Linked DNA regions of Homo sapiens. The protein of the gene in region 1 purifies or fractionates together with the protein of each later gene. This does not show direct contact. Each region holds a gene or a part of one and is shown in the gene's direction. Other genes may lie near its edges.

Region 1 (4,136 bases):
GCTAGGTGCAGTGGCTCATGCCTGTAATCCTAGCACTTTGGGAGGCAGGAGGATTCCTTGAGCCCAGGAGTCTGAGACCAGCCTGGGCAACATAGGGAGACTCTGTCTCTGCAAAAAAAAATTTAAAAATTAGCCAGGTGTCATGAGACACACCTGTAGTCCCAGCTACTGAGAGGCTGAGGTGGAAGAATTGCTTGAACCCAGGAGTTTGAAGCTGCAGTGAGCTGTGATCACACCACTACACTCCAGCCTGGACAACAGAATAAGACCCTGTCTCAAAAAAAAAAAAAAAAAGTGGATACTATTGTCAAGGAGCTTATAATACAATTTAGTATGGGCTTTAAAAAAGATATCTAATAACAAAAAGATGACAGTGTAAGACAGTGAAAAAGAGGGGCCAGTTGCTTATATCTGATAACATGATCTTACAAACTCTCTCCATTTAAACCCCAATATGTCTGCATTTCTCCAGCCCTCGTTTCCCAGAGGCTCACTTTGCTCATGGAGGCCTTTGTTGCCACCAGCTCCATCCTACTTTATATTTCCTCATAGCAGCACGTGCCCTGTGCTAGATTTGCTTTTGGTCTGTGCTCACTGGAATGTGAGCTGCATGAAAACCTTTTGTGCGCTGCTGAAGCTCTAGTGCTTGCAAATGTCGGGTACATAGTAGCCACTTAGTAAGTATTAAGTGGATTGAGGACCATGATCATTCATTGACAGTTATTAGGTTTGCCTTCAGCTCTCAGTCCCGTGGGGGTACATGGACACATAAATAGGTCATCCAAGTTTAGTGAGAATTGGTGGGAAGGCAAGAAATGGAAATAAGGAAGGATGGGCACTTGGTCAATATTTACATAGACTTTACCCAAATATTGGGCTTTTTGTAAACATAGAATCTGTTGCTTCTTAAAGCCTAAGCCCGTTGGAAATTGGGGTAATGTGAGCAATTTCTTTCTTTCCATCAAAGAGGTGGTATGGCATGCAAGAAAAAGCAAGATTCAAAACTTTAATAGCATTTGTCTTGATGTCTTGCTTTAGAGGACTCTAAGACAATTAAAAAATACAATAAGAGTAAGAAAAAAAGAAAGAAACAACAGTATTAGAAAAGTGTTTCTTAACCTGTATGTTAAGAAAGAGAAAACTCTCTGACAGAGGCAACCTATCATTTGGGACATGTGTGTGTTTTTGTCTTTTCCTTGGGAGCTATTCAGAGGAATGGAGATTAGAATAAAGTATCTCCCCTCTCCCTATCCCATTTTATCCTAATCAAATCTAAATTTGCTTTTCAGGTTAAAGATTAAGTAACAGCTCCACCCCCTTGCTGTTGTGACAACTCAAAATTACTCCAGGCATTGCCAAATGATCCCCGGGGAGGTGGGGTGGGGGTAGGAGAAGCAAAGTCATCTCTAGTTGAGAACTACTGGTCTACAGGAAGTTTTTTTGTAAATGATTGCTAACATGCATCAATTTAAGTTTTGAATGTATAAAATTATTATCTTGGCTTCATTAAATTTTTAAAATTATTTGACATACCAGGATAGTATTTGCTTCTAATACATGGATTTTTTCATGAAGATGTTAACAGACTTTGGGAAGAACTAGGAGTAGAAGTATTTCTGTAGGGTCAAATCTATGAGGCCTGGAATTTGGTTTCCTATAGGGATTCCCAGAGATAAGTTATGATGGAACATGGTTGTCCTCCTTAATGTTAATTTCAGAAGTCAGGGATGGAGCCTAAAATCTCATAATAAGGTCCACTGTAGATTTTTTAAGACATTAATTTGCCTAATTCACTTAAAAGTTTCTGTTAAATCACATTTCACGGTAATGAACTCCAAAATTCCCTATATTCTCCGGAGTTTGTGTGAAGAAATAAGTAGCTTTTTCCCCCTTTCAAAACTCATCTGTATTAAAATGTTAACGTAACTACTTACTTAGGCATTTAAGTTTATTTCTGACATCACTGTTTATGCAGTGCCAGAATTTGCTGTTACTACTCCTCTTTCCAATCGCTCTGCTGTTTTATGACTTTCGAATTATGACTTTATGAAATCTCATAGGTTTTAGGATATTAGACATGAAAGAAAACTTGGAGATCATATGGTCCATTCCCATCATTTTACAAATTGGAAAACTGGCTTTTTCTTGATGCTCAAGGTATACTAATGTTTGTGAACTGTACTGTAATTGATTTCTGGTTCAATAGCAAACTACTTTATGCCTCTGCAATCAAGATAGGCAAATTCCAGGCCCCAGGAGAAACCTGACACACAGGAGAACACGTTTTTGTCTCAAAAAGCCATCTTGGGTCTGGAAACTGCATTTTGTTTCTAGAATGAAAAAGAGAATGTGCGGTTCATTAATATCATGCCTTTTCAAGTTTACTTAATAATTGGGCAAGAATATTTTCCATTGTGCTGGGATGAACGTTTTAACATCTGAGCAGTATTCAATCTAAGAGTAATTACTGACTTTGAAAGTCTCATAATGTAGCCAGGAAGTGCCCTTTTGATAAGGAAGCAACTTCCTGAGTACAATAGACTAGAAACGAAAAATATTCCATCAAAACATTTTCTCTTTTCATTTAAGGGAGATCGGATGTGGCACTTTGCGGTGTCTGTGTTTCTGGTAGAGCTCTATGGAAACAGCCTCCTTTTGACAGCAGTCTACGGGCTGGTGGTGGCAGGGTCTGTTCTGGTCCTGGGAGCCATCATCGGTGACTGGGTGGACAAGAATGCTAGACTTAAAGGTGAGTGTTGTTATATAATTAAGCCCTTTTATTCATGGGACCAATGCCTGAGCTACCTCTGTAGCAAAGGAAACAACAAACTAGGAGAGAAACAACCAGGGAATGTCTGCATGCCACACTTGAGGGAGGAGGGCTTAGATGGCACCACCTCTGGATGGAGGGTCCCATGGCTCCCACACAAAGTTGGGATGCCTGGACATTGACCTAATAGATTTTTTTGTATCTTTGGCTGTTCATAAATTTCATATGTTAATGATTAACCTTGTAGCACTTCTCTGAGAACCATGTTAAACATTAAAAGTTTGCTTAACTCAGGCTTCCTAACTGTATCTTGTACTGGAGTCCCTTTAGTGTGATGTTCCTGAGACAGCTTTAACATCTGTTCTTTGGTTACTATGTTTCATGTAAGAGTATGTATAAGGGAATTGAAAACTAAGAATAGCTTCAAGGCAGAATAGTTGAGCCTGGATCACAAAGAGCTGAATTATAAATTTTGTAGGGAAAAAGAAGAAATAATAATATCTTGATATTTATTCTAAGCATTAGTACTGAAATCATGTCATTTTATACAGGAAAGAAAGTAATTGATCAATTAAATTTTCCAGTATATAAGGGAAATATGGATGATCATTCAGGGTAAATTTTCTTGAATTGCTCAGTTGATAATGCCAAGACCTGACCATGCCTGACTTAGATGTTGGCAAAAGACTGAGGTTTCATTCTTTCAGTGCGAGATGACTGCTTCTGGACACAGAGCAACAGGCTTATCAAATTCTAGGACTTGATGCTACTAGGAAAATGGTCAAGGTGAACATATTTCTGTTTTTAGAATGAGTAGACCAGAACACATATAGAGAAAAGTTCTGTAATCTAGAAAAAAATTTACTTCTTTGCATCATTATACATAGGAACATAGGAATATTATACATAGAAACTTTTAATCTAATGATTGTTGAGCACTGCAATCATAGATTAGGAAAGAATATTGAATTGGATGAAGAAAAGTGTGGTAGGATAACAATTTCCCACTTATCCTATATAATCAACTCATACATTACTCTTTATGAAAAATGTTTCCTGATACCTCTGGGCTGAATTTACCATTTCTTCCTCTGTGTTCCCATGAGGCTTTGTTACCACCTCTGCTCTTACACAGATATAATGATCTGTTCACATATCTTTTCTTCTTCTGGTCTGTAGGGTCCCAAAAGCTAAGAACCTTATTTAGTTGACATCTGATCCTTATCCAGTGAATGAATGCATGAGTGAATGAATGAATATGTTGGGATTTTATATCAGACTGCTTTCAGTAAGCAGCTTATTTTTTCTTGCAAGACCTTCCAAGCAAGGATGAACTATATTATCCTTGAAGACAAGAGCTGTAATT
Region 2 (4,136 bases), on another chromosome or scaffold:
TACAGTGGATTACATGCCCAGCTAATTTTTTGTATTTAGTAGAGATAGGGTTGCACTATGTTGGTCAGGCTGGTCTTGAACTCCTGACCTCAGAGGATCCACCTGCTTCGGCCTCCCAAAGTGCTGGGACTACAGGCATGAGCCACTGCACCTGGCCTGAATTAATCTTTTTTTTTTTTTTTTTAGAGTTAAATTCATACAGTTCAAAATTCAGAAGGTATAATAGGGCATTTAGTAAAGTTTCTACTATCCCTCTGCATCAGTTTTCCTCCTGAGACAACCATGTTCTTGTGTATTCAGAAAAATTCATGCACATACAGTAATGCTTTTGTAGTCCTCTCAAAAAATGACAAATGAAGAAGAATGCTGGGAAACTTTGTTGTTGATTCTTATTCCTTCAGATCAGTGCAGTGCGTTTACCACGTGAACCCAGCAATCCAGAGAGGTTGAAAGGTTTTGGTTATGCTGAATTTGAGGACCTGGATTCCCTGCTCAGTGCCCTGAGTCTCAATGAAGAGGTAAAGAAAATAAGAGTGGGGATATGAGGGGTGTAAGTTCACAAATCTCATGTTTATTGATCAAACTGGTATTTTTTAGGTTGAGAGGCTCACTTCAAAGATTCCCATATCTACAAATAAAGGCCTGCATTATTTAACAGTGTATCACTTAACATCGAACATCTAGCAAGTCACACTTCAGCAAATTCAGTAGGCCCCAATAATTTAGATAGGTACTTAGGTGGAAAGTTGTGGAAGAAACCCACCACACACCAGGTCTCTAATTAAGTCTTACACTGATTTACCCACAGTGTTGCCTCAACTCTTATGGCATTGCTTTTTCAAAGTAATCTGGCCTGATAAAGGCAAATAGAAAAATCAAGTTTGTTTAGTATTAAAGGCATATCTCATTTTCAGGGAAGTGTTGTAATGGTATATTTGTTCATTTAAGAGGATTTGGAAACATTTCCTACAAAGGAATATTTTACAGGAGAGTGACAATAAATATCTAGTCCTTCTGCTTGTCAACACTGCCCACAAAGGTTTTCCTGTCCCAGGACTTGAGGGGCTTATATCTCAGAAGAAAAAAGACTTTTTTCCTCCTTTAACTCCAAAAACACCTTATTGTTTATTGATAAGGCAATTTCTAGTGCCATTTGTGCCATATTTCTGTAGTCCTATTTTGCCATATGACATGATTGAAATCAACACCTCTTAGAAATAGTTTTGCTGCCTCATAATTGATTACCATCATGATAACCTGTAGTCAGTGTGAAATAGAGATAAAAATTAATGTACTTAGTTAAATGCATATGAAGGTCTAATCTTGTTCCAGAGTTACTCTTACTGGATTATTTTTAGATTTTTATTAACATTACTGGTCTCTAACTTTACTCAGTCTGGATAAGAAAAAGAATACCATGCAATTGTTAACTATTTGATGTTTACTAGATTAACTATTAATATATTGTTGTGGTCCATAGTTAAGAGTTACTTTGTTACTAGAGATTTCATTATAGTGGTGTTTAATATAGTTTTGGGTATTTTTAACTAAAAATCATTGTTATCCTTCAACTGTAGATTCTACTATGAAATGAGGAAAAATCAGCAATAGAATTAATTGGGTTCAAAGTATATAAATAATGATGTGGGAAAGGGAAGTCAGAGGGTATCTCTGGAAGAACTGATTTATCTGAAGGTAATACTGAGTGAAAGAACCTAAGATTGTAGACAAAGCATGCTTTATGCAATTTTGCTGGTACATAGTAGTAGTAGAGGCTCTATAAATGTGTTGGGTGTTTTTGTTTTTAAGAGACAGTGTCTCGCTATATTGCCCAGGCTGGATTTGAACTCCTGGGCTTAAGTGATCCTCCAGCCTCAGCCTCCCAAATAGCTGAGACTGTAGGTACATGCCACTGCACCTGGCTTCTATAAATTTTGATAAATAATTGTTGTGGCACCAAATATGCCTTTTATTCAGCTAGTTATGTGAGAATTATTTTTAATTTACTACACTTGACAAATTACCTTGGATAGTTAAAAAGTTAATTCTATTCTGTGAAATTAAGCTTTGTAAAAATAGTATAATTGACCTAATATTCAAGGCCAGCTTAAATTTGTTTAACTTTTAAGTCTTTTAAAGGACTCTTTAGCCCACAAATTGGAGTGTTAGCTAGATTACAGTGTTTTCCTTTATCTTCCTTCCCCTAGTGCTTCTGCTATGCCCAGACGTTCAAGGTCACTCAAGGGATTTGTGCATAATGGGGCAAAAGGTTGGTTAATATGGTCCTATGCTCTCAGTCTCTAGGTAACAGGAGAATTCGAGTGGACGTTGCTGATCAAGCACAGGATAAAGGTAAGGAAACTGGTAGAGATTTCTGTTTGGTAATGGTCCCAGGATGACACCAAGCCATCCTTTCCCAGAAAATTTGAATAGGGGTAGTGGTGGGCCTGCCTGAATCTACAGTAACAGTTTTCAATCAGTTTTGCCCCACAGGGGACTTCTGGCAATGTTTGAAGACATTGTAGTTGTCACAATTGGAGGGAGTGCTGCTGACATAAGTAGAATCCAGGGGTTAATTCTATAGGGAATAGGACAGTCCCCATCAACAAAGAATTATGCAGCCCAAAATGCATGTCAAGATTGAGAAGACTGATTGATCTAGATGAACATTAAATAGATGATAAATAGATTAGCTGCCTAACAGCACGTTGGTCACAAAGGGGACCTAATTTGTATATGTTTCAGGGACTCCTGGCCCATACAGAATTTGAGATAGCTAAGCATTAAACCAATAGGAAAAAACGGGAGGAAAAGAGCCACCTGGGGTTGAATTGGAGCATGTACTTATGGGGCCTGAGGTAACTGGGATGACAGTGTGACGTGAAAGTGAAAAATAGGGTAAAATGGGGGTTTTCTATGTGTGAGAAATATTGGGCAAAGTTTTTATGAGATAACTTACGGTTTTTGTTTTAATGTATCTGTAGACAGGGATGATCGTTCTTTTGGCCGTGATAGAAATCGGGATTCTGACAAAACAGATACAGACTGGAGGGCTCGTCCTGCTACAGACAGCTTTGATGACTACCCACCTAGAAGAGGTGATGATAGCTTTGGAGACAGTAAGTTTGTTTTTATGAAGTTAGCTTCCTCTGTGCTTTGGGAGGCTATTTAGTAATAGGACAAATGTGTTACAGATGATCAGATCACATTAACAGATAGAAGGAGGAAAGCAGATTAAGAAAAATTTTGGATAGTATCTGAAAGAACTGATAGATGCAGGAAACGAATTTGATAAATTAATAATTTTTTTTGAAAACTTAACCAAACAAAGGGACAGACATTTCTCTTTTTTTGGAGACAATTGTTTATAAAGAAACCCAAACTGGGCATGGTGGCTATAATCCCAACGCTTTGGGAGGTCAAGGCAGGTGGATTGCTTAAGGCCAGGAGTTTGAGAGCAGCCTGGGCGACAAAACAAGACCCTGTCTACCAAAAAGAAAAAGAAAAAGCTGACGTGGTGGTACGCACCTGCAGTCCTAGCTGTTCAGCAAGCTGAGGCAAGAGGACTCCTTGAGCCCAGGAGGTCTAGACTGGGTGACAGAGCGAGACCCTGTCTCAAAAAAAAAAATCCAACAGATTCTACAAAGTGAGCTATTTGAAATAAGAGTTCAGCATGATTGCTGAGTGAAGAGCAGCATACAAAGATCAGTTGCATTACTTTTTGATATATATATATATTTTTGAGACGGAGTCTCGCTGTGTCGCCCAGGCTGGAGTGCAGTGGCGTGACCTTGGCTCACTGCAACCTCCACCTCCTGGATTCAAGTGATTCTCCTGCCTCAGCCTCCCAAGTAGCTGGGACTACAGGCGCGCGCCACCACACCCAGCTAATTTTTGTATTTTTAGTAGAGATGGGGTTTCACCATGTTGGCCAGGATAGTCTTGATCTCTTGACCTCATGATCCGCCCGCCTTGGCCTCCCAAAGTGCTGGGATTACAGGCGTGAGCCACTGCGCCTGGCCCATCAGTTGCATTACTATATGCTTGTAGCAAACAATTAAAATGTAAAATTTTTTTTTTTTTTTTTTTTTTGAGACAGAGTTTCGCTCTTGTTGCCCAGGCCGGAGTGCAATGGC
Region 3 (4,136 bases), about 170 Mb from region 1:
ACTGGAGCCTCCTCGTTTGCCTCAAAGAAAGAACTTACAAAGTGAAAAGGAAACTTATCAGCTGTCTAAGGAAGTGGAAATTTTATCTAGGAACCTGGTTGAAATGCAACGGTGTCTTTCTGAACTTACAAACCGTCTGCATAATGGGAAGAAATCCTCTTCAGTGTATCCACTCTCTCAAGATCTTCCTTATGTTCACATCATTTACCAGGTAAATTCTCCTTTGAGGAACTACCACTATACATAAAAGCTCCTGCAGCCGGTGAGTACTGCAAGAAACGTATTGATGAGGAAGATGGTGCTCTAACTGAGCTTCACTAAGCTGGGCATGTTATGTTACAGGCAAGTTGGTACACCTTTGCAGGTTGGTTGGTTTTTAGCCTGCCAACCAGATAGGCGCACATATCAGTCTGCATCATGATTTTATCAGGTGCATGACGTGGAAAAATAAATGTCTGCACTAATTCGGGCAATTTATATTTAGAAAAAAAATCATGTTATTTCATTGTGACAACCTTTTCCTTATATAATAGAGATACTCCTCCAGTTATAAAAAAGGTTATGTTGCTGGGCTCCATGGCTCACGCCTGTAATCCTAGCACTTTGGGAGGCCGAGGCAAGTGGATCACCTGAGGTCAGGAGTTCGAGACCAGCCTGGCCAATGTGGTGAAACCCTGTCTCTAACAAAAATATAAAAATTAGCTGGGCATGGTGATGGGCGCCTGTAATCCCAGCTACTTGGGAAAGCAGGAGTATCACTTGAGCCCGGGAGGCACAGGTTTCAGTGAGCCGAGACTGTGCCACTGCACTCCAGCCTGGGCAACAGGGCGAGACTCCGTCTCAAAGAAAAAGGAAAAGGTTATGTTCATTTAAAATGTTTTGATGCATTTCTTTATGCATGCATGTCCAAACATTATATAAGTGGGATCATATTATACATGTTTTTATCATGGACACTTTCCTCCTATATAAAATATGGCCTTGCCCCATCTTCCCCTTAATCCGCTGTAACCAGCAGCTTAACATGGATCCTTTCGTGACTTTCTCCATGGTCACATGATCTAACACAGGTCTTTGTGTACATAGATATATAGGTATGTGGGAATGGTTTGTCATTGTTTTTACAAAAATAGGGTGATATGGTGCACTCTTTACTTCATACTGAGAGTATGCTCTTTATTTAGCCATTCCCTTGTTGATTGACATTCACTTTGTTTTTAGTTTTTAGCTACTCCAAATGATGCTGCAGTAGTACTCTTATATGTATCCATTCATATTAGTACCTTTATTTCTGTTGGATTGGTTCCCAGAAGTAGAAATGCAAATTTGAAGAGTATATGTGTTTCTACTTTTAATTGAGTTACCAGATTGCCTCTCAAAGATTTTTACTTAACAGTGCATCATCACACGCCCGCCAGCTATGTATAAGGCTGTCCTTTTCCTCGTATGTCACCAATCTGATCAGTGACCCTCCTGCTTCAGCCTCCTGAGCAGCTGAGACTACAAGCACATGCCACCACACTTGGCTAATTTTTTTTTTTTTTAGCAGAGACAGGATCTTGCTATGTTGCCTAGGCTGATCATGACCTCCTGGGCTCAAGTGATAGTCTTGCCTCAGCCTCCCAAAGTGCTGGGATTACAGGTGTGTGCCACTGCATGTGGCCCCAACCCTACATTTTTTTAAAGAGGATTTTTGCCACATTAACTACATGGAGTTTTCAGTAGTAGAGTTTTAATTTTTTTTTTTAAGTCACAGCTTTGCTGTGAGGAGCATTTTATTTTATTTATTTATTTATTTATTTATTTATTTATTTATTTATTTTTGAGACGGAGTCTCTGTCACCAGGCTGGAGTGCAGTGGCGCGATCTCAGCTCGCTGCAACCTCCAACTCCCAGGTTCTAGCAATTCTCCTGCCTCAGCCTCCCAAGTAGCTGGGATTACAGGCACGTGCCACCACACCTGGCTAATTTTTGTATTCTTAGTAGAGGCGGGGTTTCACCGTGTTGGCCAGGATGAGCTCAATCTCCTGACCTTGTGATCTGCCCGCCTTGGCCTCCCAGAGTGCTGAGATTACACGTGTAAGCCACTGCGCCCGGCCTAATTTTTTTTTAATTAAAAAAAATTTTTTTTTAACTATAGAGACAAGGTCTTGCTATGTTGCCCAGGCTTGTTTGGAAGTCCTGGGCTCAAGCAGTCCTCCTGCTTCAGCCTCCCAAAGCGCTGGGATTACAGGTGTGAGCCACTGCACCCAGCCATAGTTTTGATTTTTTTAAAATTATTTTATTTATAAATGTGATAACTGGTTTGGATTTCTTTCCTACTATGACTTTTTAAAGAGTTTGTTTTCTTTTTCTTCTGTCTTTTTTTAATAGGTAATTCATTTATTTGGTTTAAAAAGCAAAACTGTATTTTAATAAAAACTGTATACCAAGAACTCTTATTCCTACCCTATGTTTCTTCAGCCTGTTCTCCTTTCCTCCTTTAGGTAACCATTTTTATTTTTATTTCTTTATGCAGATACTAGCAGACTTTAGTTATGTATTTTTATTTCCCCTTTTGTTACACAAAAGGGAAGGTGATATACACACCTTTTCATTTTCCATTTAATAGTATGTCCTAGAGAGCTCTTTATATCAGCACACAGAGCTCTTTTTTCATCTTTTTTTCCACAGCTGCATAGTATTTTTTTTTCCTAATTACAAAAGTAATATATACTTGTTGAGGAAAAAAATTTTACCATTACAGAAAGTAAAAATTTTCCATAATCCAACCTTTAGAGAAAATCACAGATATAGCTAAATATTTTATTAGATGTTAGATGTAAATATTTCCATATTTTTTCTGTACATTTATCTAATCCAAAAAAAATCTAATATAAAAATATATTATTTTTAAAATTTTCTTTAAATAGGCTATTTTACTTGCAAACAATAATATATCTTTCTGTTTTTAAAACACTTATAAATGTAAAATTTTATATTTTTAAAAACTAAGGTTAAAACAACCATGTTTGGCCAGGCACAGTGGCTTAAACCTGTAACCCCAGAACTTTGGGAGGCCGAGATGGGTAGATCACTTGAGTCCAGGAGTTCGAGACCAGCCTGGGCAGCATGGCAAAACCCTGTCTCTACCGAAAAATACAAAAATTAGCCAGCCGTGATGGCACCCACCTGTTTTCCCAGCTACTTGGGAGGCTGAGGTGTGAGGATCACCTAAGCTGAGGAGGTTGAGGCTGCAGTGAGCTGTGATCGTGCCACTGCACGCCAGCCTGGGAAACAGAGCAAGACTCTGTCTCAAAAAAAAAAAAAAAAAGTTTTGTTGCCCTTTCAATTCCTCAGTTTTTTAGTTTATAATTATGTCATCCAACCAAGCTGTTGTCAGTAGTTATCTCTGGAGGATAGAATTTTGGGGGCTTTACTGTCTGCATTATATATTTCTGTTATATTTTTATTTTATTTATTTATTTTTAGATAGAGCTTTGCTTTGTCACCCAGGCCGGAGTGCAGTGGCGCGATCTTGGCTCACTGCAACCTCCGCCTCCTGGGTTCAAGCGATTCTCTGCCTCAGCCACCCAGGTAGTTGGGATTACAGGTGTGCACCACCACACCCAGCTAATTTTTGTATTTATAGTAGAGATGGGGTTTCACCATGTTGGCCAGGCTGGTCTCGAACTCCTGACCTCAAGTGATCCACCCGCCTTGGCCTTCCAAAGTTCTGGGATTACAGGCGTGAGCCACCACACCCGGCCCTATTATACTTTTAAAAAATTGATCATTTATTCCTTTTGTAATGAGAAAAGTAAAAGTTACACAATAATCAAAAGCAAGAAATAGTTTCCCCTGTAATTTCAGAAATTACATTTCATAAGACGTGAAATAAATGATTAGTTGGTTTTGACTTTTACAGTTTATTCCTGTGACTTCATTTAAAAATATTAGTGGACATATTCTTTGAGTGGTTCATCCTACCACAGTGATGTATAGTTTTATTTTCTTTTTATGAGATGGGGTCTTGCCATGTTGCCCAGGCTGCTCTCCAATACCTGGGCTCAAGCAATCCATGCACTCTGGCCTCCCAAAGTGCTTAACAACAAAATAAGTTAGACACATAACTTATACAACTGTCCTTCATTTAT
Region 4 (4,136 bases), on another chromosome or scaffold:
AATAATATATGCCCCACTAGAAATCGTTTCCTCCCACGATTAATCATTTCAGATATGAAGTTTTCAGGTGGGGCAACACATTTTGCCCCAGTTTCCATTCATATTCTGCATTATAGATCAAGCAAATAGAAAATCAGCATAAAAGTTTACATTGATCCAGCAGCCTTAGTTTAAATTGTTTAATATCTAGAACTAACTGTAAAACTCTTAATGCAGTCACTTAAAAAAAAAAAAAAGATCAAAGACGTGTATTAGTAAAACCCTGAGGTAAAGAAATTAGCCCAATTTTTATATTAAATTGTTAGTAGAACTTGGAGTTTCTAAGTGAATTATTTTCTCTTTCAAGGGTGCTTACATTTTAATATGGTAATAGAAGAATGTAATTTTAAAGACTTCACCTTATTATTCTCTTTTGATATTTAGCATAATGAGACATGGTATTGTAGTGGTTGGTCACTTTTTAGGCTAGACAAAATGTATTTCCAAGTTGTAAATGAACATGGAATGCAAAGGGATGGTGTTAATTAACTTGGAAGGTACATACTTACTATTTGCTTTCAGATGACGGTTTTTATGTAGCTCTTTCTTCACATTTTGCTTTTTCAACTTCCATTTATGCGTATTTATCTGTTCCTTTCAATATAAAAATTGATCAGAGGTTAATTGATAAGACTGTAGTGATTAAGAGTATGGATTTTATGCATTCAACCTTAAACTTGCAAAGTATGATAGGGTTTTGCTTGTTTCTGGCTTGGTTGTGTTTTTTAATATTACATGAGTTTTCCTCCTCTCTTTGATTGTAAATAAATGGTCCCAGTTGAAGCAGGCAATGTGCTAAGGTTATAGCCCTTGTATTGTCAGTGGAAGTATGGCCAAATAAGTGAGAAATTCTTCATTTTTTTTTAGACGGAGTCTCGCTCTGTCACCCAGGCTGGAGTGCAGTGGCACAATCTCAGCTCACTGCAACCTCCGCCTCCCGGGTTCAAGCGATTCTTGTGCCTGAGCCTCCCAAGTAGCTGGGACTACAGGTGTGTGTCACAACACCCAGCTAATTTTTTTGTATTTTTAGTAGAGATGAGGTTTCACCGTGCTAGACAGGATGGTCTCAATCTCCTGACCTTGTGATCCACCTGTCTCGGCCTCCCAAAGTCCTGGGATTACAGGCGTGAGCCACCATGCCTGGCCATTTTTTTTTATGGTAAATTCAATGTGTCACCTACAGAGCTGCCAAGAGATGGATTTTACGTTATATTTGGGAGGTTTGTTTTTTCTTTGCCACCTTGTTAACTCTCGTGTAATATTTATGAGAAAGAATACTGTCCAGATGGAGATGGTACCTGCAGATGTTAATCTGGGGGACTCAGATCAGCTCTAATTTGTTTCAGTTCATAGATTGTTACATTTGTTCTGTGCATTCCATGAAGTTTCTTACCCTTAGAGTTATTTCTGTCTTAGTAACAGCAACAAGTGGGAATGGAGACTTTGGTGACTGGAGTGCCTTCAACCAAGCCCCATCAGGCCCTGTTGCTTCCAGTGGCGAGTTCTTTGGCAGTGCCTCACAGCCAGCGGTAGAACTTGTTAGTGGCTCACAATCAGCTCTAGGCCCACCTCCTGCTGCCTCAAATTCTTCAGACCTGTTTGATCTTATGGGCTCGTCCCAGGCAACCATGACATCTTCCCAGAGTATGAATTTCTCTATGATGAGCACTAACACTGTGGGACTTGGTTTGCCTATGTCAAGATCACAGGTAAGTTGTCTGGTTCCCTTGGAATTTGTTATTTATAATCTTTGAGATGCTCTAACTCATTGAATGATAGATTAGTATAAAACAGAAAAATAAGCAAGTCCTTTTTATGTGTATGAATATGTGTCTGTGTGTGTATATATACGCATTTGCACATTTCATTTACCTCATACTCTCCCCTAGCATAGTCATTTGCATTCTGGAAGGCAAGACCTTCTCCCCCATCTTGTAGTCACTGTAAAGCCAAGCATGGTGCCTTTGCACAGAGGAGGAACATGGCAAAAATTTATTGTTACAACAAATTGGTACTTGATAGTTTTTTTAAATTGTCTTTAAGAAAAAGAAATAGGCCAGGCGCAGTGGCTCACCCCTGTAATCCCAGCACTTTCGGAGGCTGAGGTGGGTGGATCACTTGGTCAGGAGATCAAGACCATCCTGGCTAACACGGTGAAACCCAGTCTCTACTAAAAATACAAAAAATTAGCCAGGCATGGTGGCAGGCACCTGTAGTCCCTGCTACTTGGGAGGCTGAGTCAGGAGAATGGCGTGAACCCAGGAGGTGGAGCTTGCAGTGAGCTGAGATCGCGCCACTGCACTCCAGCCTGGGCGACAGAGTGATACTCCGTCTCAAAAAAAAGGAAAAGAAAAAGAAATAGAGATATTGTTTCACTTACGGCAAGTATCCACTTAGTAAAATTTCTGGTCATGTCCCTAAAGAAATATCACTCATTGGTTGTAAATAATTATTGCTAATATGGAAAATCATTCTCTCGAATGGTGAATGTTCTTCCCAATTCTGGACCTGCTCTACATTATATAAATGTTTTATAGGCTCATCTTTCAACTTTCATTTTCATAAAGAAAAACAACCAAAATGGGAGCTTCTTAATTCACTATTTTATAGTTAAATCCGAATTACCTAGTACTAGCTTAGAATTCAGACAAGTGCAGGCTTGGAAAATATGTGTCTGAATGGTACCAGGAACTTGCTATTTTTGACTCAAACTATTGAGAATATGTGTTTATGATGCTAATTACTCATTTTAATGTGTAGATTCTCGTCTTTGGGGTATTAGGATGAAGGAAAAGAAGAAAGAAGCAGAAAGGTGACTGCTCTATGTAACAGAAATAAGACCTAATGTATGAGTTAAGCATAAAGTCAGTCTACTTTATTTGCAGTCTTAATTGTAACTGTCATAATTCTTTGCATTGGTACATTTTTAATTATTCTTCCTCTTCCTGTTCCTTTTTTCTGTCCTTTTCAGTTATCCTCAATAACCACTAGGAACCTCTGCTTCTTTCTCCTGAATTTCTTCTTTCTCCTACATTGTTCCATATATTAATCAGTTCAGTTAGTGTTGCTCACTTTAGATAGTAAAAGTATACACAGAACAGCAAAATGTCAGGATATGTGAAATATAAATTGCTTTTTGACAGTTTTGCCTTATATCCTTGTATAATGTGAGACATCATATCCTGAATTCTCTGTTTTGTTTTGTTGTTTTGAAACAGAGTCTCGCTCTGTCGCCCAGGCTGGAGTGCAGTGGCACGATCTCTGCTCACTGCAGCCTCCACCTCCTTGGTTCAAAGTGATTCTCCTGCCTTAGCCTCCCAAGTAGCTGGGACTACAGGCATGTGCCACCATGCCTGGCTGATTTTGTATTTTTAGTAGAGATGGGGTTTCATCCTGTTGGCCAGTCTGGTCTTGAACTTCTGACCTCAGGTGATCTGCCCACCTCAGCCTCCCAAAGTGCTGGGATTACAGGCATAAGTCACTGCGCCTGGCCTCTGAATTCTGTTTTGAAAGAATAAATGTCCACTTGTGTATCTCCTTAAAGCTGTACTAACCTAAAATCGGTAGTTCCCCTGGGCATTTGCCAGGGATGGTGGCTTCTAGACTTTGAGTGATGGGAGAATAATTGTTAGTGTAGGTAAGTTGTTGGTTTTATCCACCTCAAACCTGATTGGGACTTCAGAGGAACCTCTTTGGGAAGCTAATGATTCAGGGTATTGAAGACATTAGCATAGAACATTAGTGGTTCTTTTTGTTTCAGAAGTTCATTGTTGTGATTAAATTGCCATCTGATAATTTTTATAGAACAGATGCTTAATTTTTAGAGCATTTTTCTATTTTCCAGCCTTTGCAAAATGTTAGCACAGTGCTGCAGAAGCCTAATCCTCTCTATAATCAGAATACAGATATGGTCCAGAAATCAGTCAGCAAAACCTTGCCCTCTACTTGGTCTGACCCCAGTGTAAACATCAGCCTAGACAACTTACTACCTGGTATGCAGCCTTCCAAACCCCAGCAGCCATCACTGAATACAATGATTCAGCAACAGAGTAAGTTACCTTAAGACGTCCCACTTCTTTGTGTACTTGCAGTCTTTT
Region 5 (4,136 bases), 6.6 Mb from region 1:
TTCCTGCTTCTCTCACACATCTAAGTTACTGAATCCTTTCAATTTTATCTCAGAAGTCTGTCTCAGATCTGCCCATTAAAATTTTTTTATTACACTTGCCTATTTCATATCCCTTTTTCATGCCTTGTCTGAACTATTTCTAGCAGCTCTGTTACAATTTTCCTTTTTCAGTGTTTTCTTCTGCCAATATCAGAGTTATCCTTAGAAAATTACCTCTTCATGGCCAGGCATGGTGGCTCACGCTTGTAATCCCAGCACTTTGGGAGGCCGAGGCAGGTGGATCTCCTGAGGTCAGGAGTTCGAGACCAGCCTGGCCAACATGGCGAAACCCCATCTCTACTAAAAATATACAAATAAAATTAGCTGGGTGTGGTGGCAGTCGACTGTAGTCCCAGCAGCTCAGGAGGCTGAGGCAGGAGAACCCAGGAGGCAGAGGTTGCAGTGAGCTGAGATTGTGCCATTGCATTCCAGCCTGGGCAACAAGAGTGAAACTCCTTCTCAAAAGAAAAGAAAAGAAAAGAAAATGTCTCCTCATGCTGTGGCTATTTTAAAAAATTGTCGCTGTCTTTTTGCCTGCAGTTTACAATCCAACCTCTAGCTTGGCATTCAAGGCCCTTCCTAATAGTTGAAACCTCTGTACTTTACCTTACACGTTATGCTCCACCACATAGTAGTTCTAACTACAGCTCTGAACCATCATATCTTTACACAGTTTTTTTCCAAAGGCCATTTAATCCTTCCAGTGAAATATTCTTTTTCATTCCTTGCTTGCCTGGTATGTTTTTACTTGTCTTTTTAATAGTAATTTAAATAAGCGTCTATGAATTTACTCTATGACGTGTTTCTTCACACAAGATTTACCCAAGATCTACCCGTTTCTGTTTTCACCAAGCTATGTGCATTACCCAAGCTAGCTAAGTAAGCTCTGTATCTCACTTATATTTCTGTCTTTTAATATTGTTGTGATATTTGCAACACAGCCTGGATTCAGCTACTGTTTGCTTGAATAGTTAGTATGCTTTCAGAGTAATTGGTGTAATGTAAGATTTCATTCTTTTCTAAATTTAGTTGCTACCCAAGCATTGTGCCAAAACTATCAGTCAAGCAGTGAATAAGAAATCAAAAAAGCAGACTGGTAAGAAAGGGGAACCTGAAAGGGAGAAACCAGGTGTTGAGAGCATGAGGAAAAACAGGCTGGTTGTGACCAAGTAAGTATCCACTTATATTATACCTTTTTGCTCCAGGTAAAATATTTATTTCATTTTTTTCTATTGACATTAGTACTGAGGAAATGCTAATAATTGTATATTCTTCATTTTCCAGCCATTTTAAAAAATATTTCTGAGCTTAATTAACCTGTTAGTTGCTTATTTCATCTCAAAATACAGATTTTGGCCTTTAGAAGAAAATATATGTAATAGTTGATATTTGTCTTTTTATACTAAGTACTGAAGGCCAATTATATGTTTAAAAAATTTTGTGTGTTACATTATAAGCAATCTGTAATTTTTAATTTATTTAAAGTTAGATAGTGGAGACTTTATTTTGGCATGTTTTTGATATATTAGAACATACCCAATGTCATTATTATAAAACAGAAATAACAGACCAGGTAGCATTCAGGGATCTTTGCTTGCTTCATTGTTTGGAGGGGAGGTGTAGGTGGGTAATAATTCGGTAAATATTTTTTGTTTAAAGTATAGTTCCTACTTTCTTGCTAAATTGAGCAAGCCATTGCCCTTTTATAGACAACTTTCCTTCTCTCATAACAGAAAGTACTTCAGGAATTGGGCGTGATTATCTTTATGAGTGCAGAATAAGCTCTACCTTTGTATATTAAGTCAGTATATTCATTACTACCTAAAGGTAGAAACAAATGACGCCATCTTTAGAATATTGCTCTTATGTGTTAGTTATAACCTTAAAGATTTTGAACTTTCTCAGTTTAGGAGAATAAAAAGTCGAATTCTCTAAGCATTATCTCCAAATAAGGTTGATATATTTATAAAATTAATTTTGTATTGCCTGTGATGACATGTGAACATTTTAACTGTTTATTAATTTTTTTCAGCCTTGATAAATTGCACACTGCACTTTCTGAGTTATGCTTCTCTATAAATTATGTACCAAACATGGTGGTATGGGAACATACCTTTACCCCACGAGAATATTTGACTTCTCATCTGGAAATACGCTTTACCAAGTAAGAAAGAATATTGACTGTTTTTGTTTGTTGACTCAGTAATGAGTTTGTTATTTAATTATACAGTGTTTTATAAGGAAAAGCATTAGTAGAACTGGATTAGTGTTAAGAATAATGAACCGGGCCGGGCGTGGTGGCTCACGCCTATAATCCCAGCACTTTGGGAGGCCGAGGTGGGCAGATCACGAGGTCAGGAGATCGAGACCATCCTGGCTAACACAGTGAAACCCCGTCTCTACTAAAAATACAAAAAATTAGCTGGGCGTGGTGGTGGGCACCTGTAGTCCCAGCTACTCGGGAGGCTGAGGCAAGATAATGGCGTGAACCCGGGAGACACACTTGCAGTGAGCCAAGATCATGCCACTGCACTCCAGCCTGGGTGACAGAACAAGACTCTGTCTCAAGAATAATGAACTGGGAAATGCAAAGAATAGTGAACTGAAAATTACTGAAGATACCCAGATTCTTTTCTCATACCTATTAGTATTAACTAGTAACACCAGGCAAACCAGTTAATATCTCTGAGTCATAGCTTCCTTATATACAAAGTGAGAATATTGGAGCAAATCAATGTATTTCATCTTGCAGGTGGCAACCCAGTAGGTTCATGAAATCAGTTTATTAGGTTGTAGTCAAAGTTTAGAGAAAAGTGGGAGGGAAAGAAAGGACAAGAGGAAGAAAAAATAGGAAAAAAAACCCAGTACACTGTGTGCATTAAATATATATATTGCTTCGTGAAATGTTTCAGTTACATGTATGCATGTGTATTGACTTGCAGTGTTAAGATGCGTGTCATGCAGTAGGTCACAGTAAAATGTTTGAAGACCTGAGGACTAGATGAACCCTTACATGTTTTCTGAATTCACATGTTGCTGTTAAATAAGCCAATAGAATTCTAGATTCTTGAATTCTCAATTCTAATTAGAATTTCCTGTTATATATGAATATATATTTTATGTATGTATATGAAATAGTGCATTGATAAGTCAGAAACCTTTCAACTTTATATATATTGTTTTAACCTTTTTCTGAAGTTACATCCTTATTTATTAATATTTATTCATGAAAATTTTTATTTATTTGACAATTTTTTTCTTCAAAGCCTTGAAGCAATTTATAAAACAAAATTTTGCCAAAAGGTTTTCAAAGTTTCTGTAGTCATTAACAGGTGGTGTTTGTATTTGCACTATATGCTTAACAATGTGTTAAGTACTCTAGGTAATAATGAGATAAAGATAGAACTGTAGCTGGTGAGATGACTAAAAGAATTAGAGAACAGAATATGACAGTATATAAAGTGGCACTAAGTTGAGTGTTAAATTATCAGTTGACTTGAGAAGAGTCTGGTGATGAACTGTCTTTTGTTCTCCTTAGTAAGTCAGGCATCCTGACAGTAAAACCCAGAATGCCCTAGAACTTAGACCAAAGGGGCATTGTGCCTTGTGGTGTTTATTATTCTCAAGTGGGTTAGAGGTGGGACATTGGTGGGTGGAAGGGAGAGTTCAGTGTACAGCTCCCTTGTTTTCCTTGTAAACAGTCTGCTTTGTTAATCCACAGAGAAGCAGTTTTTTTTTTAACCAAACATCTACTTAGTGATTAGGATCAAGGCAAGGGGAACAGCTTGTTTACCTTGGAAAGATTTTTTATTTTATTTAATTTATTTATTTATTTATTTTGAGACGGAGTTTTGTTCTTTCGTCCAGGCTGGAGTGCAGTGGCACAATCTCAGCTCACTGCAACCTCCATCTCCCAAGTTCAAGCAATTCTCCTGCCTCAGCCTCCCGAGTAGCTGGGACTACAGGCGTGTGCCACTGTGCCTGGTTAATTTTTGTATTTTTAGTAGAGACGGGGTTTCGCCATATTGGCCAGCCAGATAGCTTGTGAATATTAGTGGGTTGGTTTTTGTCAATCAACTGAGCACAGTCTTAGGACT
Region 6 (4,136 bases), on another chromosome or scaffold:
TTTGAAACTGGGCAGTCTGTCTACAAAATCCATGCCCATAACCACCACATTGTGTTGACTCCCAGTGTGTCTGCAGTTCAGAGGAGCAGTTTGGACTGTGGACAAAATGTGAGCACCATAGAATTATGGAGAGGGAGTCTGGTGAGCCACGAGAACTCCAACATTTAATGTTTGTGTAGAAGATGATGAACTGGTCCAGAAAACTGAGACAGAGCAGCCAGAAAGGTTAGGAAAACCAGAAGTGGCATAGGCTTATGGAAGCCAGTGAAAAAGAAGACTTTAAGAAGGGGATGGGCGCCTGTAATCCCAGCACTTTGGGAGGCCGAGGTGGGCAGATCACTTGAAGTCAGGAGTTCAAGACCAGTCTGGCCAACATGATGAAATCCCGTCTCCACTAAAAATACAAAAATTAGCCTGGTGTGGTGGCGCACCCCTGTAGTCCCAGCTACTTGGGAGGCTGAGGCAGGAGAATCGCTTGAACCTGGAAGGCAGTGGCAGAAGGAAGATCATGCCACTGCACTCCAGCCTGGGCAACACAGCAAGCCTGTCTCAAAAAAATGAAGGGGATGGGGTGGGTGTGGTGGCTCATGCCTGTAATCCTAATACTTTGGGAGGCCAAGGTGGGAAGATTGTTTGATGCCAGGAGTTCAAGACCAGCCTGGTCAACATAGGGAGACCCCATCTCTAAAAAAGAAGGGGGTGGTCAACGATGTTAAGTGCTGCTGAGAGGATGAGTCTTGGCTCTGCTGATTCCTGACTTGAGTTTCCAGTCAGAAATACACAGAGGTCCTTAGCACTGTCTACTCTAGAGCCTTCTTAGATCTGTGAGATGGAAGTATAAATTACTGTGAGCAGTACTTCTGATGTCACCATGGGCAAAAGAGTCCATATGTGAAGGTCACATGCTTATTTACATCCTTTTCTGTTTTGGGCTATTCTGCAAAATCAAGTCCTGTCTTACCCTCTCTTCATGCCACCCCCAACCAGGCTCTGGCGTTACGACGTATTCTGTACACCCTGGCACAGTCCAATCTGAACTGGTTCGGCACTCATCTTTCATGAGATGGATGTGGTGGCTTTTCTCCTTTTTCATCAAGACTCCTCAGCAGGGAGCCCAGACCAGCCTGCACTGTGCCTTAACAGAAGGTCTTGAGATTCTAAGTGGGAATCATTTCAGGTATGAATGTTATCTCTTTTTGCAGATGAGATTTATTGCTCAAAGGAGATAATTTGGGTTTGTCTGGGTATACCCTTTTTTAAAAGTACATTGTCTCATATAGCTTTTGTCTTTTAACTCTAGAGTTTTTACCTTTTAGTAGGGGAATTTGACTCTCTTTTGTAATAACTGCTACATTTGATTTTATGCCATCTTTTATACTGATAATTATGCATTCTGTTTGTTTTCTTCCTGTCTTTGTTATGTCAGTCCAGTTTTCTTTATTCTTTTTTGGATTCCTAATTCTATTGTTTTACATTAAAAAGAATTTAAAAAGAATTTGAGGCCAGGCGCAGTGGCTTACGCCTGTAATCTCAGCACTTTGGGAGGCCAAGGTGGGCAGATCACCTAAGGTCAGGTGAAACTCCGCCTCAAAAAAAAAAAAAAAGAATTTGAATCTGCATTTCTCTATTGTCCTCAGGATTGAAATACTATGGACTCCCCTCTCAAATAAGCGAAGACATTTAAAATGATTTAAATGTAGAGAATTTTGAATATAACACAGGGTTAGATAAAATAGTGCACTGAGCCTGCATATAATGGAGCCTCAGCTACCATTAACCCATGGCCAATTCTGCCCTATCCCCATTCTCTACCCCTTTCCATATTTTTCTTCTCCCATATTATTTTGAAGCAAATCCCAGGCATCACATAAGATCAAAATTTTAACATGTTTTTACCTCTACTTCAGGTTATTGTTGAAATGACCTGAAATTTTAAGGAAGTAGCTGAAAATAGCATTAAGATTGGAAAGAAAGGCAGACAGATTATGAGAGGCCTATAATGCCAGCCTTGTGGAGGAGCCCCAGAGTTGTTTCAGTAGACAGACAAAATCTGGTCTGTGCTTTAGCAACTTTGTTTCATGAATGAATAATTAACCTAGTGAGAGAGAGAGTTTCAGAAAGTTGTAATGAAAGGAATGGTAATGTGAAAGAGGCCCTGAAGCAGCAGAATTTTTATCACTGGATGATTAATTAAATGAGGGGATGAGGGAGGCTTTGCTAACCTGAATTTCAAGCCTGAATGAGGTTGATGATGACATTAACTAAGACAGCAGACATGGAAAAGTAATGTGTGGAACTTAGGGTTCTTGGATTCCAAAGCAGTTGAAAGGGACTTTGTCTAGCTTAAGCAAGAAGGAAATTTATTAAAATATTAGTAGGGAGAGGAGGGACCCCTAGGTTGAAAGGGAAGACTGAAGAGCCAGGCTAAGAAGTGTCAGAGTGGCAGTCAGCCAGCCGGGGCATTGCTGCTAGAGTGAGCGAATGCCAGCTATCTTTAGTGTTTAGGTTGTATTGCTTATCATCCATTCTCTAGGGAGGAAGCATTGGATCTCCTTCCTCCTATCCCTTCATTTTTACTCTTTTGATTAGAGGCAAACAGGGACTTTATTAATGCTCTCTTCAAACTATATTGAGGGGAAAAGGTGATTCTGCAGAAGGAAATCAGGTTGCTATTGCCGAAACAAAGTAGAATGTTCAGCCAAAGAGTAACAGTTGTCCACTGTGTAACAAACCTGGCTCTGTACATGTTGCATGTGTGTTATCTATAAGGCATGCAAGTAGAAATGTATAGCAGATAGTTGGAAATGTGGTTCTGAAGTATAAGAAGATAGATTTATATAGTATACTGGATTGATTTTCCAAGAGTGACTGGATTCTTCTTCCCTAGAGATTTTAAGAAAAAAAAAAATAACCCTTTATCTTGGTTTTGACTGAGTGGTTTAAAGAAAGTCAGCTCTAAATCCATAACTTACTATTGGATTGACTTTTGAAGAGCCTTTCCTGTGCTATGGATTCTTAATTCATTTTGAAGATCCAACAGCAGCCGTGTAGACCACCATCAAGAAATGAACATAAAAGTCTTTTGATTGAAGCCTTAAGATTTTTGCACTGGCTCTTCTTTCTGCCTGCAACCACTAGTCTGCTTTATGTCTCTAAGAATTTGCCTTTACTGGACATTTCATATAAATGGAATCATATGGTATGTGGCCTTTTGTGACTGACTTCTTTTACTCAGCTTAATGTTATCAAGGGTCATCCATGCTAAAGCATGTGTCAGTACTTCATTTCTTTTTATTGCTGGATAACATTTCATTGTATAGATTTGCCACATCTTATTTATTCATTCATCAGGTGATGGGCATTTGGGTTTGCACTTTTTAGCTATTTGAATAATACTGCTGTGACCATTTGTGTAGAAATTTTTGTGTGGACATTTCTCTTGGGTACATGGAAGTGGAATTTCTGGGTTATATGGTAACTGTGTTTAACTGCTGAGGAACTGCCAAACTTTTCCAAAATGACTGCCCCATTTTACATTCCCACCAGCAGTCTATGAGTATTCTAATTTCTTCACATCCTCAGCAACACTTGTTATTGTCTCTCCTTTTGAGTTTAGCCATCCTAGTGAGTATGAAGGAATATCTTGTTTTTATTTTCATTTCATTTTCCTACTAATGATGTTGAACATTCTTTCATGCGCTTTTTGGTTCATTTGTTTCTTTGTTGGGGAAATGTCTATCAAGTCCTTTGCCCATTTTTAAGTTGGATAATTGTCTTTTTATTGTTGAGTTACAAGAGTTCTTAATAGTCTAGATGCGAGTTCCTTGTCAGATATATAATTTGCAAATATTCTCTCATTCTGTGGGTTGTCTTTTAACTTTCTTAATGGTATCTTTTGAAATGTAAAACTTAAATTTTGATGAAGTCCAGTTTATCTATTTTTTGTCACTTGTGCAGTCATATCTAAGAAATCATTGCCTTACCCAAGGTCACAAAGATTTACTACTGTCTTTAGTAAAGACAGTTTTCTGTTACTAAACAGAATACCACAGACTGGGTAATTTCTAAAGAAATTTACTTAGCTCATGGTTCCGGAGGCTGAGAAGTCTAAGAACATGGTGCCTGGCATTTGGTTA
Region 7 (4,136 bases), on another chromosome or scaffold:
AAAATAGACGAGGTTTCCCAAATTTGCCTTCTAAATTTTGATTTGTTGATTTAAATCTTCTAAATTTATGTAGTCTGGCACTCAGGTTTGTATTCCTTTTAAGCACATGTTAGTGTTTTTGATATTTTCCCTTCTCCCTCCGACCCCCCAATTCTTCTTCTTTTTTTTTTTTTTTTTTTTTTTTTTTTGGTAGTCACTTTTCGTTTTTAAGAGTGACAATACAACTAGGTGGCCTGGCTGTTTCATATCCTTGGTTTCTCCATTTCTTGGTTGGCCACCAGGGGGAAGCATACTGTTTTTTTGGTTACAGTTGACCCTATCTTCATTTTGTAGGTCAAGTCTGTTTTTGCTTTGATACATAGAACAGAAAGCTTGTCACCGCGTTTCCCTAATGTATTATTTTAAAAAATAGACTTGCACAAATCTTTGAGTAAGTTGGCAGGTTTTTGGATACATTTTTGTTAACATTAATTTTGAAAACTTTATTTAGATATGTTGGATGTGACTAATGAAAGGACATGTTTGATGGCAACAAGGGGAATTCGGTTTCTGACATTTATCTAAATATAGATGTCTAGCTCTGCATTGTTAGTAATGAGTCTGACTTCTTTGGAGTTGTACTCTTCTTTGAAATAGCAAATGTAATATTTTGAACTGTCCTTGCACTTTTTGTTGGAATAGGTATAAGCGTAAACTTGCTAGCAACCTACTGTTCTAAAATGGAAAACATCTAGCCAGTCGCAGTGGCTCATACCTGTAATCCCAATACTTGAGGAGGCAATGAGAGGATTGCTTGAGCCCAGGAGTTAGAGACCAGTCTGGGCAACTTAGTAAGACTCCATCTCTACAAAAAATGAAAAAATTAGCTGAGCATGGTGGCATGTGCCTGTAGTCCCAACTACTTGGGAGGCTGAGACAGGAGGATCACTTGAGCCCAGGAGGTGGAGGCTGCAGTGAGCAGTGATAGCACCACTGCACTCCAGCTTGGGTGACACAGCGAGACCCTGTCTCTAAATAAATAAATAGGAAAACATCAAAAAAAAAAGAGAAAATTCTCTTTACAATAGCATCAAAAGATAAAATACTTATGAGTAAATTTAACGAAAGAAACAGAAAATATATACTCTGGAAACTGTAAAATATTGCTGAAAGAAATTTAAAATCTAAATAAATGAAATGGAAAAATGTCCTGTCTTAGTCTTGCCAGGCTACCATAACAGATATATACTGTGTGGCTTAAACAGAAATTTATTTCTCATGATTCTGGAGGCTGGGAAGTCCAAGAGGAAAGTGTGGATGATCTGGTTTCTGGTGAGAGCCTCATTTCTAGTTTATAGAAGGATACCTTCTTGCTGTATCTTTACGTGGTGGAGAGAGACATATCTCTCTGTCATGTCTTTTCTTATTTATTTATTTATTTGTTTGTTTTTGAGACAGAGTCTCACTCTGTCACTCGGGCTAGAGTGCAATGGCATTATCACGGCTGACTGCAGCCTTGAACTTCTGGGCACAAGGGATCCTCTCACCTCAGCCTCCCAAGTAGCTGGGACTACAAGTGCTAACCACCATGCTGGGCTAATTTATTTTTATTTTTTTGTAGAGACAAGGTCCCATTATATTGCCTAGTCTGGTCTGGAACACCTGGGCTCAAACGATCCTCTGGCCTCAGACTCTGGGAGTGCTGGGATTATAGGTGTGAACCACCAGGCCCAGCTTCATGTCTTGTCTTTTTCTTTTCTTTTCTTTCTTTCTTTTTTTTTTTTTTTTTTTGAGACAGAGTGTCGCTCTGTCACCCAGGCTGGAGTGCAGTGGCATGATCTCAGCTCACTGCAACCCCTGCCTCCTGGGTTCAAGCAATTCTCCTGCCTTAGCCTCCCGAGTAGCTGGGATTACAGGTGTGCACCACCACGCCTGGCTAATTTTTTGTATTTTTAGTAGAGATGGGGCTTCACCATGTTAGCCAGGATGGTCTCAATCTCCTGACCTCATGACCTGCCTGCCTGGGCCTCCCAAAGTGCTGGGATTACAGGCATGAGCCACCGTGCCTGGCCTCATGTCTTTTCTTGTAAGGGCACTAATCCCATTCGTGAGGACTTTCCTCTTATGACCTAATCGCTTCCCAAAGGCCCTGCCTCCAGATACCATCACACTGGGGGTCAGGCCTCCATATGAATTTTGGAGGACTCAAGCATTCAGTCCATAGCACATCTCAAAAAGATGTTCATACATTGGTAAACTGAACATTGTGTCCTCTTATTGCCACAGGTGATCTGAAAGTAGAGATGATGGCAGGGGGGACTCAGATCACACCCCTGAATGACAATGTCACCATATTCTGCAATATCTTTTATTCCCAACCCCTCAACATCACGTCTATGGGTATCACCTGGTTTTGGAAGAGTCTGACGTTTGACAAAGAAGTCAAAGTCTTTGAATTTTTTGGAGATCACCAAGAGGCATTCCGACCTGGAGCCATTGTGTCTCCATGGAGGCTGAAGAGTGGGGACGCCTCACTGCGGCTGCCTGGAATCCAGCTGGAGGAAGCAGGAGAGTACCGATGTGAGGTGGTGGTCACCCCTCTGAAGGCACAGGGAACAGTCCAGCTTGAAGTTGTGGGTGAGTGTCTCGGGGCAGTGCCCTACAGTTCCCATGGTGTTGGGGTTAGCAACAACAAAACCCACACACCTCTTTGAGCTCCACTTTCCTGTATTATAAAATGGTCTGATAATACATGGATGAGCTTGGTGGCTGTATTAGTTTGCTAAGGCTGCCATAACAAAATACCATTGACTGGATGCCTTTAAACAACAGATGTTTATTTTTCACACTTTTGGAAGGCTAGAAGTCTGAGATGAAGACATCAGCAGGATTGGTTTCTTCTGAGGCCTCTCTTCTCTGGCCATCTTCTCCCTGTGTCTTCACATGGTCTTTCCTTTGTGCCTATATCTGTGTCCTAATTTCCTCTTCTTATAAGGATACCAATCATATTGGATCAGAGCCCATCCTAATAACCCCATTTTTAACTTAATTACCTCTTTAAAGAACCTATCTCTAAATACAGTCACATTCAGAGATACTGGGAATTCTGGGAGGACATAAGAATTTTAGGAGGACATAATTCAGCCCAGCATGGGCCCTCCATAATTGTACATAAGACTTTGAATGTTTTGTCCGTAGTAATTTTGGGAGTGAGAGGCATATTAATTAGGATTCACTTCCTCTGCAACTGACAGAGGAATAACAGTGACAGTGGCTATATATACGGCCAACTGACAGTGGCCGTATATATATAGCCACTGTTCTTCTAGGCTTTATATATCTATATAAAGGGTCTACATAGGAGACAGGGTCTCCCTCTGTTGCCCAGGCTGGAGAGCATGGCACAATCATAGCTCACTGTAACCTCAAACTCCAGGGCTCAAGTGATCCCCCTGCCTCAGCCTCCTGAGTAGCTAGGACCTCGGTTGCATGCCACCATGCCTGGCGAATTTTTACATTTTTGTAGAGATGGGGCCTTGTGTTGCCCAGGCTCGTCTCCAACTTCTGGCCTCAAGAGATCCTTGTGCCCGGGCCTCTCAATGTGCTGGCATTACAGGGATGAACTACCATGCCTGGCCAACAGTGGCTTTTAAAGACATTAATAGACTTTTTTTAAGGACAGTTTTAGATTTACAGAAACATTGCAAAAATAGTATGAGAGTTCTCATATCACTCACGCCCTGCATACCATTTCCCCTGTTATTAACATCTTGTATTCGTATGGTACCTTGATATAATTAATGAACCCATATTGACATTTTACTATAATGAAAGTGTGTAATTTATTCATATTTCCTTAGTTTTTACCTAATGTCCTTTTCCTGCTCCAGGATCCCGTCAGAATACCACATTGCATTTAATTGTTATATGTTCTTAGGCTCCTTTTTGCTGTGACAATTTCTTAGACCTTATTTTTGATGTCCTTGACAGTTTGGTGAGGGTATTGGTCAGGTATATTGCAGGATGTCACTAAGTTAGGATTTGTCTGCTGTTTTCCTCATAATTGGACTTGGGGTTATGGGTTTTTGGAGGAACATCGCAGAGGTAAACTGCCATTTTCATCACATCAAATCACATGACTTATGACTGTTGATGTT

What was found.
Region 2: the proteins of SLC40A1 (region 1) and EIF4B purify together in Homo sapiens (affinity purification with mass spectrometry; one large-scale study listed by BioGRID and IntAct). This does not show direct contact.
Region 3: the proteins of SLC40A1 (region 1) and WDCP purify together in Homo sapiens (affinity purification with mass spectrometry; one large-scale study listed by BioGRID and IntAct). This does not show direct contact.
Region 4: the proteins of SLC40A1 (region 1) and CLINT1 purify together in Homo sapiens (affinity purification with mass spectrometry; one large-scale study listed by BioGRID and IntAct). This does not show direct contact.
Region 5: the proteins of SLC40A1 (region 1) and NCKAP1 purify together in Homo sapiens (affinity purification with mass spectrometry; one large-scale study listed by BioGRID and IntAct). This does not show direct contact.
Region 6: the proteins of SLC40A1 (region 1) and RDH11 purify together in Homo sapiens (affinity purification with mass spectrometry; one large-scale study listed by BioGRID and IntAct). This does not show direct contact.
Region 7: the proteins of SLC40A1 (region 1) and NCR3LG1 purify together in Homo sapiens (affinity purification with mass spectrometry; one large-scale study listed by BioGRID and IntAct). This does not show direct contact.

Annotation. Positions count from the first base shown.
Region 1 is NC_000002.12:189,573,774-189,577,909, reverse strand, and holds part of SLC40A1 (ferroportin), read left to right. Parts: intron 1-2,589; coding exon 2,590-2,749; intron 2,750-4,136. UniProt on the Homo sapiens protein: Transports Fe(2+) from the inside of a cell to the outside of the cell, playing a key role for maintaining systemic iron homeostasis.
Region 2 is NC_000012.12:53,019,509-53,023,644, forward strand, and holds part of EIF4B (eukaryotic translation initiation factor 4B), read left to right. Parts: intron 1-401; coding exon 402-518; intron 519-2,297; coding exon 2,298-2,352; intron 2,353-2,984; coding exon 2,985-3,119; intron 3,120-4,136. UniProt on the Homo sapiens protein: Required for the binding of mRNA to ribosomes. Functions in close association with EIF4-F and EIF4-A. Binds near the 5'-terminal cap of mRNA in presence of EIF-4F and ATP.
Region 3 is NC_000002.12:24,033,752-24,037,887, reverse strand, and holds part of WDCP (WD repeat and coiled-coil-containing protein), read left to right. Parts: coding exon 1-211; intron 212-4,136.
Region 4 is NC_000005.10:157,789,315-157,793,450, reverse strand, and holds part of CLINT1 (clathrin interactor 1), read left to right. Parts: intron 1-1,455; coding exon 1,456-1,748; intron 1,749-2,799; coding exon of another isoform or gene 2,800-2,826; exon of another isoform or gene 2,827-2,851; intron 2,852-3,010; exon of another isoform or gene 3,011-3,883; coding exon of another isoform or gene 3,884-3,937; coding exon 3,938-4,088; intron 4,089-4,136. UniProt on the Homo sapiens protein: Binds to membranes enriched in phosphatidylinositol 4,5-bisphosphate (PtdIns(4,5)P2). May have a role in transport via clathrin-coated vesicles from the trans-Golgi network to endosomes. Stimulates clathrin assembly.
Region 5 is NC_000002.12:182,954,529-182,958,664, reverse strand, and holds part of NCKAP1 (nck-associated protein 1), read left to right. Parts: intron 1-1,068; coding exon 1,069-1,208; intron 1,209-2,071; coding exon 2,072-2,203; intron 2,204-4,136. UniProt on the Homo sapiens protein: Part of the WAVE complex that regulates lamellipodia formation. The WAVE complex regulates actin filament reorganization via its interaction with the Arp2/3 complex. Actin remodeling activity is regulated by RAC1.
Region 6 is NC_000014.9:67,682,056-67,686,191, reverse strand, and holds part of RDH11 (retinol dehydrogenase 11), read left to right. Parts: intron 1-987; coding exon 988-1,177; intron 1,178-4,136. UniProt on the Homo sapiens protein: Retinol dehydrogenase with a clear preference for NADP. Displays high activity towards 9-cis, 11-cis and all-trans-retinol, and to a lesser extent on 13-cis-retinol.
Region 7 is NC_000011.10:17,354,386-17,358,521, forward strand, and holds part of NCR3LG1 (natural cytotoxicity triggering receptor 3 ligand 1 precursor), read left to right. Parts: intron 1-2,265; coding exon 2,266-2,616; intron 2,617-4,136. UniProt on the Homo sapiens protein: Triggers NCR3-dependent natural killer cell activation.